Linked DNA regions of Homo sapiens: region 2 is linked to region 1. The links come from fine-mapping of genetic effects on gene expression. Tissue or cell type: whole blood. Region 1 holds a variant in brackets; the other region holds the start of a gene. All regions are shown on one strand. Distances are from middle to middle.

The links. PIP is the estimated chance that this variant, and not a neighbour inherited with it, causes the effect.
Region 2: it holds the start of ARHGEF11, and the variant in region 1 is fine-mapped to the expression of ARHGEF11 in whole blood (INTERVAL, PIP above 0.99).

What each region holds. Positions count from the first base shown.
Region 1 is chr1:157,014,457-157,019,456 of GRCh38, reverse strand. All of the region lies in intron 1 of ARHGEF11 (Rho guanine nucleotide exchange factor 11), which reads left to right. Among named protein-coding and RNA genes, the nearest start is that of ARHGEF11, 29 kb to the left of the region's middle. The variant C/A (reference allele first, on the strand shown) is at 2,865.
Region 2 is chr1:157,043,540-157,048,539 of GRCh38, reverse strand. ARHGEF11 (Rho guanine nucleotide exchange factor 11) reads left to right here and starts at 2,798. Exons shown (of 41, transcript NM_198236.3): 1 at 2,798-4,241. The coding sequence starts at 4,210. RefSeq lists a silencer at 2,588-2,887.

The DNA of each region.
Region 1 (5,000 bases):
TTTTATAATTTCACATTCCCACTGGCAGTGTATCCTATTCCCAGTTGTTCTATATCCTGGTCAACACTTGGTAAGTTCAGTCTTTTTAATTTTAACCATGTTAGTACATACATAGTAACATCTTATTGTGGTTCTAATTTGCATTTCCCTGATGACTAATAATAATTTTATGTGTCATTTTGTCATGTATATGCCTTTTTTTGTTGAAGTATTTGTTTGGGTCTTTTATCCATTTTCAGTGTCTTTTAAAACTTGTTTAAATTTGCATACAGTAAAATGCTTTGTCTTTTGAGGAACAAAAGTTCTTAATTTTGATGAAATCCAATATATAAGGTTTTTCTTTTATAGTTTGTACTCTTTGTATTTAATGAATAAATCTTTGCCAATTTCATAGCCACTAAGATTTTCCTCCTCTGTTTTCTTCTAGACATTTTATGGTTTTAGCTCTTACATTTAAATCTGTGATTTATTCTTCGTTACTTTTTGTGTAGTGTGTGAGAGAAGAGTTGAGGTTAATTTATTACTGTTTTTTGCATATGAGGTCCAGTTGTTCTGGCACCATTACTTGAAAATCATATTCTTTCCTCATTGAATTGTGTTGGCATCTTTGCTGAAAATCCATTGATCGTATATGTGTGGTCCAGACTCTACTGTGTTCCACTGATCTATATCAAAAACACACTGATTTGATTATTGTAGCTTTACAATATGTTTTAAAATCAGTTAATCAAGTCTTCCAATGTTGTTCTTCTGTTTCCAGAATTGTTTTAGTATTCTAGGTCTTTTTCATTTCTTTTTTTTTTTTTTCTTTTTGAGACAGAGTCTTGCTCTGTCAGCAGGCTGGAGTGCAGTGGCACGATCTCGGCTCACTGCAACCTCCGCCTCCCAGGTTCACGCCATTCTCCTGCCTCAGCCTCCCAAGTAACTGGGACTACAGGCGCCCGACACCACGCCCAGCTAATTTTTTTTGTATTTTTAGTAGAGACGGGGTTTCACCATGTTAGCCAGGATGGTCTCAATCTCCTGACCGCATGATCCGCCCACCTTGACCTCCCAAAGTGCTGGGATTACAGGCATGAGCCACCGCGCCCGGCTGGTCTTTTTCATTTCTATATAGATTTTGGAATCAATTTGTCAGTTTCTGTAAAAGTGCCTTCTGAGATTATGATTGGGATTGTGCAGAAACCATAGATCAGTTCAGAGAGAATTGGCATTTTAACAACATTCAGTTTGTCAGTCTATAAATACCATGTATTTCTTCTTTTATTTAGGTCATTAAGTTCTCTCAGCAATGTTTTGTAGTTTTTAGTGTCAAGTCTTATACATTTCTTATCAAATTTATCCCTATTTCATATTTTTGAGGCTATTTTAACTGGTAGTATTTAATTATCAATTTTCATTTATTTTTGTTGGTATGTATAAACATACTTGATTTTTATATATAGATTTCATATCCTGAAACCTTGCTAAATTTACCTATTCTCTCATAGCTTTTTTGTTAATTCTCTAGGATTTTAGAATCAGCTTGCTTGATTCTAAGTCATGTTGTCTGGAAATATGACAGTTTTACCTCTTCATTCCAATCTGTATGTTTTATGAGTTTTGGAGAATATCAGGATTTTAGAACTTCTTGGTAGACCTTTGGAGCAGATGTTAGATTCTCTCTTACCAGAAATTCTTTAAAAATCAAAACAAAAGAAATTATTAAATCCTCTTCTCCGTTTCTTTTTTTTTTTTTTTTTTTTTTTTTGAGACGGAGTCTCACTCTGTTGCCCAGGCTGGAGCACAGTGGCGCGGTCTTGGCTCACTGCAACCTCCACCTCCTGGGTTCAAGTGATTCTCCTGCCTGAGCCTCCCAAGTAGCTGGGATTACAGGTGCGTGCCACCACGTCCGGCTAATTTTTTGTATTTTTAGTAGAGACAAGGTTTCACCATGTTAGCCAGGATGATCTCGATCTCCTGACCTCGTGATCCACCTGCCTCGACCTCCCAAAGGGCTGGGTTTGCAGGCATGAGCCACTGCGCCCGGCCTTCTCCATTTCTTTATTAATTCAGTGAACATTTAGTACCCACTGTATCAGACACTAGTGATTCATGGAAGAGACGGACATACAAACAAATAATTATAATTTAACAAGTAAGTGTAATAAGTGCCATGGTAGTTATGATACAGAGTGTGCTGGGAATTTAGAGGCAGGACCATTCAGAATCTGGGCAGTGAGATGATCTCTGCAGACCCTGCTGTTCTGGAAGGGTATGACTGCCTGAGGAATACTTGGAGGTCATTGATAAGAAAGTATTTAAACTGAGCTATCTGGGGAAGTTCCACCTCTTCGCCATCCTGATTGTCCATATTTGCTTTATTATTATGGGGAGCCTGAAAGGAATACATCTTTATCAATAGTTCTTCTCCTTCCTATTTTCTTTTTTAAATCTTAATGGTATGGCAGCAGCCTTAGCTTCTAGCCTTAAATCTCACTAGTCTGGATGTCGTGGGGTGTGCCTGTAGTCCCAGCTACTTGGGGGCTGAGGTGGGAGGATCGCTTGAGCCCAGGAGGTGGAGACTGCAGTGAGCTGAGATTGTGCTACTGCACTCCAGCCTGGATGACAAAGCAAGATTCTCTCTCAAAATAAATAAATAAATAAATAAATAAATAATAAAAACTCTATTATGGAAAATTTCAAACAAGAGTAGGATGAGATAAGGAACAACAGTTATCAACTCATGCCAATTTCATTTTGTCTACACTCCTACATACCCTTCATCAGATTATGAAGCAAATCACAGACATTTTATCTGTAAATTTTTCAGTATGTATCTCTAAAAGATGAAAACGCTTAAAAATACAGTCACAATACTGTTA[C/A]CACACACACAAAATGAACAGACGCCAAACAACCTAACAACAGAGAAAAATAATTTTAAAAACAGGAATATTAGGCTGGGCACCGTGGCTCACGCCTGTAATCCCAGCACTTCAGGAGGCCGAGGCAGGTGGATCACTTGAGGCCAAGAGTTTGAGACCAGCCTAGCCAACATGGTGAAACCCTGTCTCTACTAAAAATACAAAAATTAGCTGGGTGTGGTGGCAGGTGTCTATAATCCCAGCTACTCGGGAGGCTGAGGCAGGAGAATCGCTTAAATCTGAGAGGCGGAGGTTGCAGTGAGCCAAGATCGTGCCACTGCAGACAGAGCAATAGTCTGTCTCAAAAAAAATAAAAAGATAAAATAAATAAAAACAGTAATATTAGAAGTAGCTCCCTTTTGTTGCTCGCTGACCATGTGCCAGGCCTGTAATGGGTGCTATGGGTGCCTCATTCAGTCCTCACAATAGACACCTGGGGGTTTAGGTCTTATTTGTGATTGGCTGGGTAGTCTGACTCCTGGCAAGCGTTTTTCCTACTGTTCTTTTGTTGTTTCATTACGGATTAAAATCTTAGAGATATCCACACACTCCTGGTTTATTTTTAAGACTGCAGTAGTCATCACATCACTCTTCCAATCCCCATATTGTGAAAAGGTATCTCTCCCCCTCCTCAGTTGAGAATTCCCAGAGGGCAGGGACCATAATAGCAAAGTGACTGGCACCTGGTGGAAATTCAGTAAATGTTTTTGATTGGGTGAATGAGTGTATCTGGCTCCCCCTGGGAGACATGCTCGTTGGGCCAGGTCGCCAAGAGTCCCATGGCTGACCTTCCATCCCAGTGCTTCCTCCTCCAGTGGAAAGAGGCACTAATCCACACATGCCTGTGCTGCATGCAGTAAGGCCCTTCAGGATATTGTGACCATTAGCAGACACACACTGCGCATTACTGAGGACCTAGAGTGTAATTATGGCAGTAGACCTTCAGGCTGCAAAGATGGATAAGACAATCCCTGCCTCAAGTAGCTCAAAGACCATTAAATAGATGACCACAGTGCAAGATGAATGCAGTGATGGCGATGTGCCCTGTGAGTTAGGAGCAGGGTAAAGATAACCCAGCCAGGGGAGGAGAGTGGGGTTGCTTGTTTGTTTGATAAATACTCATATAGTACTTATGTACCAGGCACTGTTCTAAGAACTTTGCACATAATAATTCCTTTAATCCTCATAACAGCCTGTGAGCGTCCCCATTTCATAGCTGCGTATAATGAGACAGAGCATTAAGCACCTTACCCAAATCACACAGCTGGTAAGTAGTAGAACTAGGATTCAGATCTAGGCAGTGTGGCCCTAGGTTCTGTCCTCTTAACCACTATATCAAGCAGTCTCTGAAATTCCTGAAGTAGAGGGGAAAATGAGAAGCATAGACAATTTGTATCAAATTGTCCAGGATGTATTGTTTAACTGGCTATGTGGTCAGAGAAAAGGAAGAGTCAAGATTGATTGCCAGAATTCCTACCTGGGGCTTGAGAGAATACGAGAGGAGGACAGAGGTGTGGTGCATGGAGATGAGTTTGTCAGTGTGTTGAGTTTGAGCATCTGTTGGCTGTGTTGTCCCCTAGAGAGTTCCATATGGAGCCTGAAATCTAAAAGAGACTGAAGGCTGAAGACAAGAATGAGAGTCCGCATTGTTACAAAAGTTGGTTAAAAGGAGAGTACGCACTGTCTCCTAAGAAGGAAGGGTAGGATAAAGTAGCAAGTCTGAAAGCAAGAGGAATCAACATTGTTGCATGCAGAGAGAGGTCCAGTGAGATGAGATCTGGAAAAGAAAATGCTCTGAACTTCTCAGTTGAGGGGCTGTTGGTAATCTTACTGAAAACAATCTCATCAGAGTTCTAGAGGCAGAAGCCAGATTGCAGTGGATTGAGGGGTAAGTGGGAGGTGAGAAACTGGAGACAGTCGATGTAGACGACTCTTCCCAGGAGTCTGGATGAGAAGTGGAGAAAAGAGATTGGTTGATTGGTAATAGCTAGAGGGGATTGTTGGGTCAAGGAAATATTTTTTCCTTTAAGAGAGAATTGGATCACTTTAGCCCAGGAGTTTGAGGCTGCGGTAAGCTACAGTGGCACCACTACACTC
Region 2 (5,000 bases), 29 kb before region 1:
AACACCGCTTAATCTGTCCCTTCAAGCTGTCCCTTCAAGGTTAAGATGACAGTCTATCTACGAGCGAGGAAGTCACTGCTTTTCTAAAGAAACACATACTTTAGGAAAAAGTATTTTGAAGACGGATGACTGGAAATGGTTCCAATATTGTGATTTTTTTAATTACCAAAAACAATGGTTTCACCTATCAAAACCTTTGCACACTGAAAAATTAGGAAACAGAATTTGAAAACCTATTTTTTAAAGTTAAATGAAATTTCTTAATGGCTGGAACCCATTTGTTAAGAATATAAAAATGTAACACCTTCCAATCATTCAAGAAGGATTGACTTAAGATATAAATTTACTAGTTGAATTTCAATTAGAAGTCTTTGCATTGTTGATGAATGGGATTGGAAAATAAGTATCATGATTTAATAAATGCAATCAAGGGCATACTTCTTCTGTTTGAATCTACCTATCTTTGGCAAGCATCTTTTCCAGTTATGACAGCAATTAACTTTCACCAAAAAGCATGATTTAAAAAATGTTCATTTTTAAATTTCAACCTTTTAATATTTCTACACTAGGCAATGTTGTATAAGATATGTAATAAAATATATGTAAATACTTGCTTTAAAAATATTACATATATTAAGAACACATTATCATTATTATTATCATTTTGAGATGGAGTTTCACTCGTCACCCAGGCTGGTGTGCAGTGGCGCAATCTTGGCTGATTGCAACCTCTGCCTCCCGGGTTCAAGCGATTCTCCTGCCTCAACCTCCGGAGTAGCTAGGATTACAGGCGCTCCCCACCATACCCAGCTAATTTTTTGTATTTTTAGTAGAGACGGGGTTTCACCATGTTGGCCAGGCTGGTCTCGAACTTCTGACTTGAGGTGATCCACTCGCCTCGGTCTCCCAAAGTGCTGGGATTACAGGCGTGAGCCACCGCACCTGGCCAAGAAAACATTATTTTAAAATGTGTGGCAACCAGTGGTCTGTCACCACAGAGCAGTGTCCACATTTGAGAGCATCATTTTTGCGGGTAGTATGGGAAAGAAAGACACAATTAAGTCAGCAACAATCTAGACTGTGCTTCAAATGCTGGGCAGATCACCTGTTTTGGGGAGTTCTGGCCTAGGGGTTGGTGGAGACAGGGTGAAGGAAGCAGGTTCTTTTATTTGCCAACCTATACCTGATATACATTAAAGGGAAAGTTCCTGGTTCATAGTAGGTCTTCAACTGATGCTTATTCGTTTCTTTTTCCTCTTGCAATTTGCATATCTACCACTTCTAACACTGGTGAGGTCACTCCAGAGCTCACGAATGTGTATAGATAATTTACATATACATATCCACCCCCTCCCAGAACAATCCAGGTAGTGTGAAAGGAGAGAACTTATGCAAACACCCCACTGCCTGCAGAGTATTTTACAATGGCATTTACCTAGGCAAGAAGGCAAAGTCCACTCCCCAATCCTAGTGAGAGTTTTTTTATTTTAATAATTTTTTAAAAAAAATTTTATTATTATTAGTTTTTTGAGACGGAGTCTCGCTCTGTTGCCCAGACTGGAGTGCAGTGGCGCAATCTCGGCTCACTGCAAGCTCCGCCTCCCGGGTTCAAGCGATTCTCGTGCCCTAGCCTACCGAGTAGCTGGGATTACAGGCACGCGCCACCACGTACGGCTAGTTTTGTATTTTTAGTAGAGGGGGGGGGTTTCACCATGTTGGCCCAGGATGGTCTCGAACTCCTGACCTCAGGCCCCGCCTCGGCCTTAATGATTTTTAATCATAACGCTCGGCACCTTCTGACAAATGTCACGTTACTTGTAAAGATTTAGAAACTGTGATTCTATGAGAGGGGGTTATGAAAATAGAATTGCTCTGGAAAGGCTCTTCCATAGAGTTCAAAGACACTTCACACAGCCTGCTATTAAGATGCCCAACCCAACCCGAGAGGAAACAGCGAAGGGTCTTCCCCCTAAGTCGGTGGTATTAGAAGTGGGAAGGACCACAGAAACGGGAGGAAACAGTTAAAAGAACTGACACCACGAAGGAGGCCGCAACAAATGTTTGAAAAATAAGATCAGAAGAGAGGTGGAGAGAGGGTGAGCCGCAGCTGCGGGCGCCGGGGTAATGCCGGTGGACGCAAAGAGGTAAACCTGCACCCGTGGGCAGGGGCACGGGGCGCGGGCACGGTGGCTGGGCGGGCAGGGGGTAGGAAACAAAGGTCGGCTCCCGAGCAGAAGTCAATAAAAGGGGGAAAAGCAGCCGAGGAAAAGCGGCGAAAAGGCGGCAGGGGTGGCGGTGGCGGTGGCGGCGGCGGGGACGGCGCGCGGTGCCTGGCGGGGTCAGGGCCGGGGTCGCCCGCGGGCCGGGCCGGGGATCCGGCTGAGATGGGAACCCGCTAGGCCGCGCCGAGGGGCAGGGCCGGCGACTGAGGGGCCGCAGAGGGGACCGGCCGAGGAGCGACGGCAAAGGGTTGTGGGGGGCAGGGCGCGCAGGGAGGCCGGGACAGGGGCGGGCCGGTCGGCGGGAGTCGCGGCCGCGGGAACCGAGGCAGGGAAAGGCGGTCAGCTTCCCGCCCCCGCCCCCGGCCGCCGCGGCGTGAGGGGAAAGGCCGGCGGGCGGCGGGCAGCGCAGCGAGGAGGAGGAGCCTGCGGCCCCGCCCCGCGGGAGCGAGGGAAGGAGAAAGGCTCGCAGGGAAGGAGGGAGGGAAGGGGGGCGGCCGGCCGGGCCTGCGCCCGAGCGAGCGGCGAACCGAGGGGGAAGGGGCCCGGAAGGAGGCGAGCGCGGCCGCGACGCCGGCAGTCGGACGCCCGCTCGTGCCGGCCTGCCGCAGCCGCCGCAGCCTTCCCTGTGCGCCGAGCCTGGCGTCCCGAGCGGCCGCGAAGGCCGGAACACGGCGGTCGGGCGCGGGGCGAGCGGCGCCGGGAGCCCGAGGCCCGGCCGGGCGTCCTGCGCGAGGCACTGCGGGCTCCTGCCTGCGAGATTAGGCGAGGGGCGGAAAGGGAGGCAAGGAGAGGCCGAGAGGAGACAGGCGATCGGATTTTCCAGGAGTCTGGTGTGGAAGAAAAACCCACCTCGAACTCAAATCCACAATAATAATCCGAACGAATAATAAGGGAGCCGTCTTTCTGGCCGGGCGAGAGAGAGGGAGAGAGAAGGGGGAACGGGAGGAAGCGAAATCTCCGTTTCATGGAGGCTGAGGCAAGAGAAAATTTCGGAGCCTGGATGTGGAGGAGCCCAACAGCAGAACTAACTCAGGAAATTGTCTTTCAGAAAAAGGCCGAACGTAGGCTGGGTCTGAGAATCAGGCTGGGGTAGGTGGAGGAACCTGCAAGTTTAAAGGAAAAAGAAAAGGAGAGAATATTTTCAGAGATTATCTCTGGTTTGTTATCATTACTACCATCTTAAAGGTAAAAAGCATTGCATTTCAGGTGTTCTTTGATTTTTATTTTATTTTTTTTTTTGGTGCAATTGGCTCATTTAAGAATTTCAAAACATTTAATGTAAAAGCTTTTTTTTTTTTAAGGAAGTCCATAAATTTTGGTTCCCAGGGTTGCACTGGACTTGGAAGGAGTGCTGTTGTGTACATACTATTGTATGGTTTTATTTATTATTTTACTGTACAAATCAGCCGAAAGAATTTTTCCAAGTGCCATTTCGGATTTATTAATCCTTTTTTTTTTCCTTTCCTCAAAGATATTTGCTGTTGTCATATTAAGCATTGGAGACTAGAAAATTACTTTCCCCCTTTGAGCTAGAGGGTCTCTTGCCAACAGAAGGACAGCTGAGAAAGCTGGATTTAAAGGATGGTTTTATCTGTACTTTGCAGTTAACAGTGATATTTTGAAGGCACATTTTTCTGTGATTCATTTTTTTTTGGCCATAGTGCTAACCTTGAAGAGATTCGTGGCTGGGTTTTTGGTTTCTGAGAAGGTCGTAGTTTTTCCTCTTTTCCTTTTTTTTTCTTTTTTCTTTTCTTTTCTTTTTTTTTAAAGCGGGGGAGGGGAAGAGGGGCTGAGAAAGGAAATCATGTTCACTGGTAGAAGTAGAGTGGAGCATCAGTTACCAGGGTCCTGAGAGCTGGAGGAGAAAGGATTCTATCTTCAAGTTGGGAGGCCCTCCTCTCACCTTGCTCAAAAATTGCAAGCGATTCAATCCTGATCAAGACACCAAAGCTACAGGATTCTGGAACCGTGGAGACACCGAGAAACCATGAGTGTAAGGTTACCCCAGAGTATAGACAGGTAGGTTTGCTAATAATTTGATTTTTCAACATTGACTAAAGGAAAGACTGGGAGGGGTGGTGTTGCATTTTAATAAATGGTTGAAAATAGGGGTCTGGGTGGGCTATGGGAATTGGTGGGCTAGGAGCATTAGTCTCTGGGGACTGTCAGCCTATGTGGTTATGTGCAAAAACATAGCTCTTGATTCAGCGTCTTTTGAATATAAGCAATAAACAGTGAAGCCAGGAGAGGGAAAGGAGGAGGATGTGCTTCCAGTGGCTTTTGACTTTTGCCAGGGTAGAGGCTGAATTTGAGTCCACCCAACTTGCTAGTCTCAGGTGGGGGCAAGCCAGTCTTGTGAGCTCCTAGGGTTGCACTAGGGGGACTGGCTTTAGGTGTTGGAGCTGCTGGGAGAAGGGCCCTGGCAGAGGCGTGGGCCTCCACCAGGCTGGTTGGTATGGAATGGTGGGGCTTGGTGACGGGGTGGATCCCATTTCTAGAAATGAAGAGGATGTTCTTGGCCTGAATGATGGGACAGAAACATCCTTTGCACCCATGCAAGTCTGGATTTTTACCAGTAGCTGACATGGTCCCAAAATGCATAGATCACATTAGAATTTCCTCTCCTCCAAGCTTAGAGTTTGAATTGAGACCTGCCAACCGGCTGATGCTCTAGGTTTAATCTTCCAAGCTGTTCTTAATAAGCTTGACTCTGCAAAATGGGCCTTCCCTCTGCCTGGAGCCAGAAGAAATTGTTTTGGGCTCGTAGGCCTGCTGGGC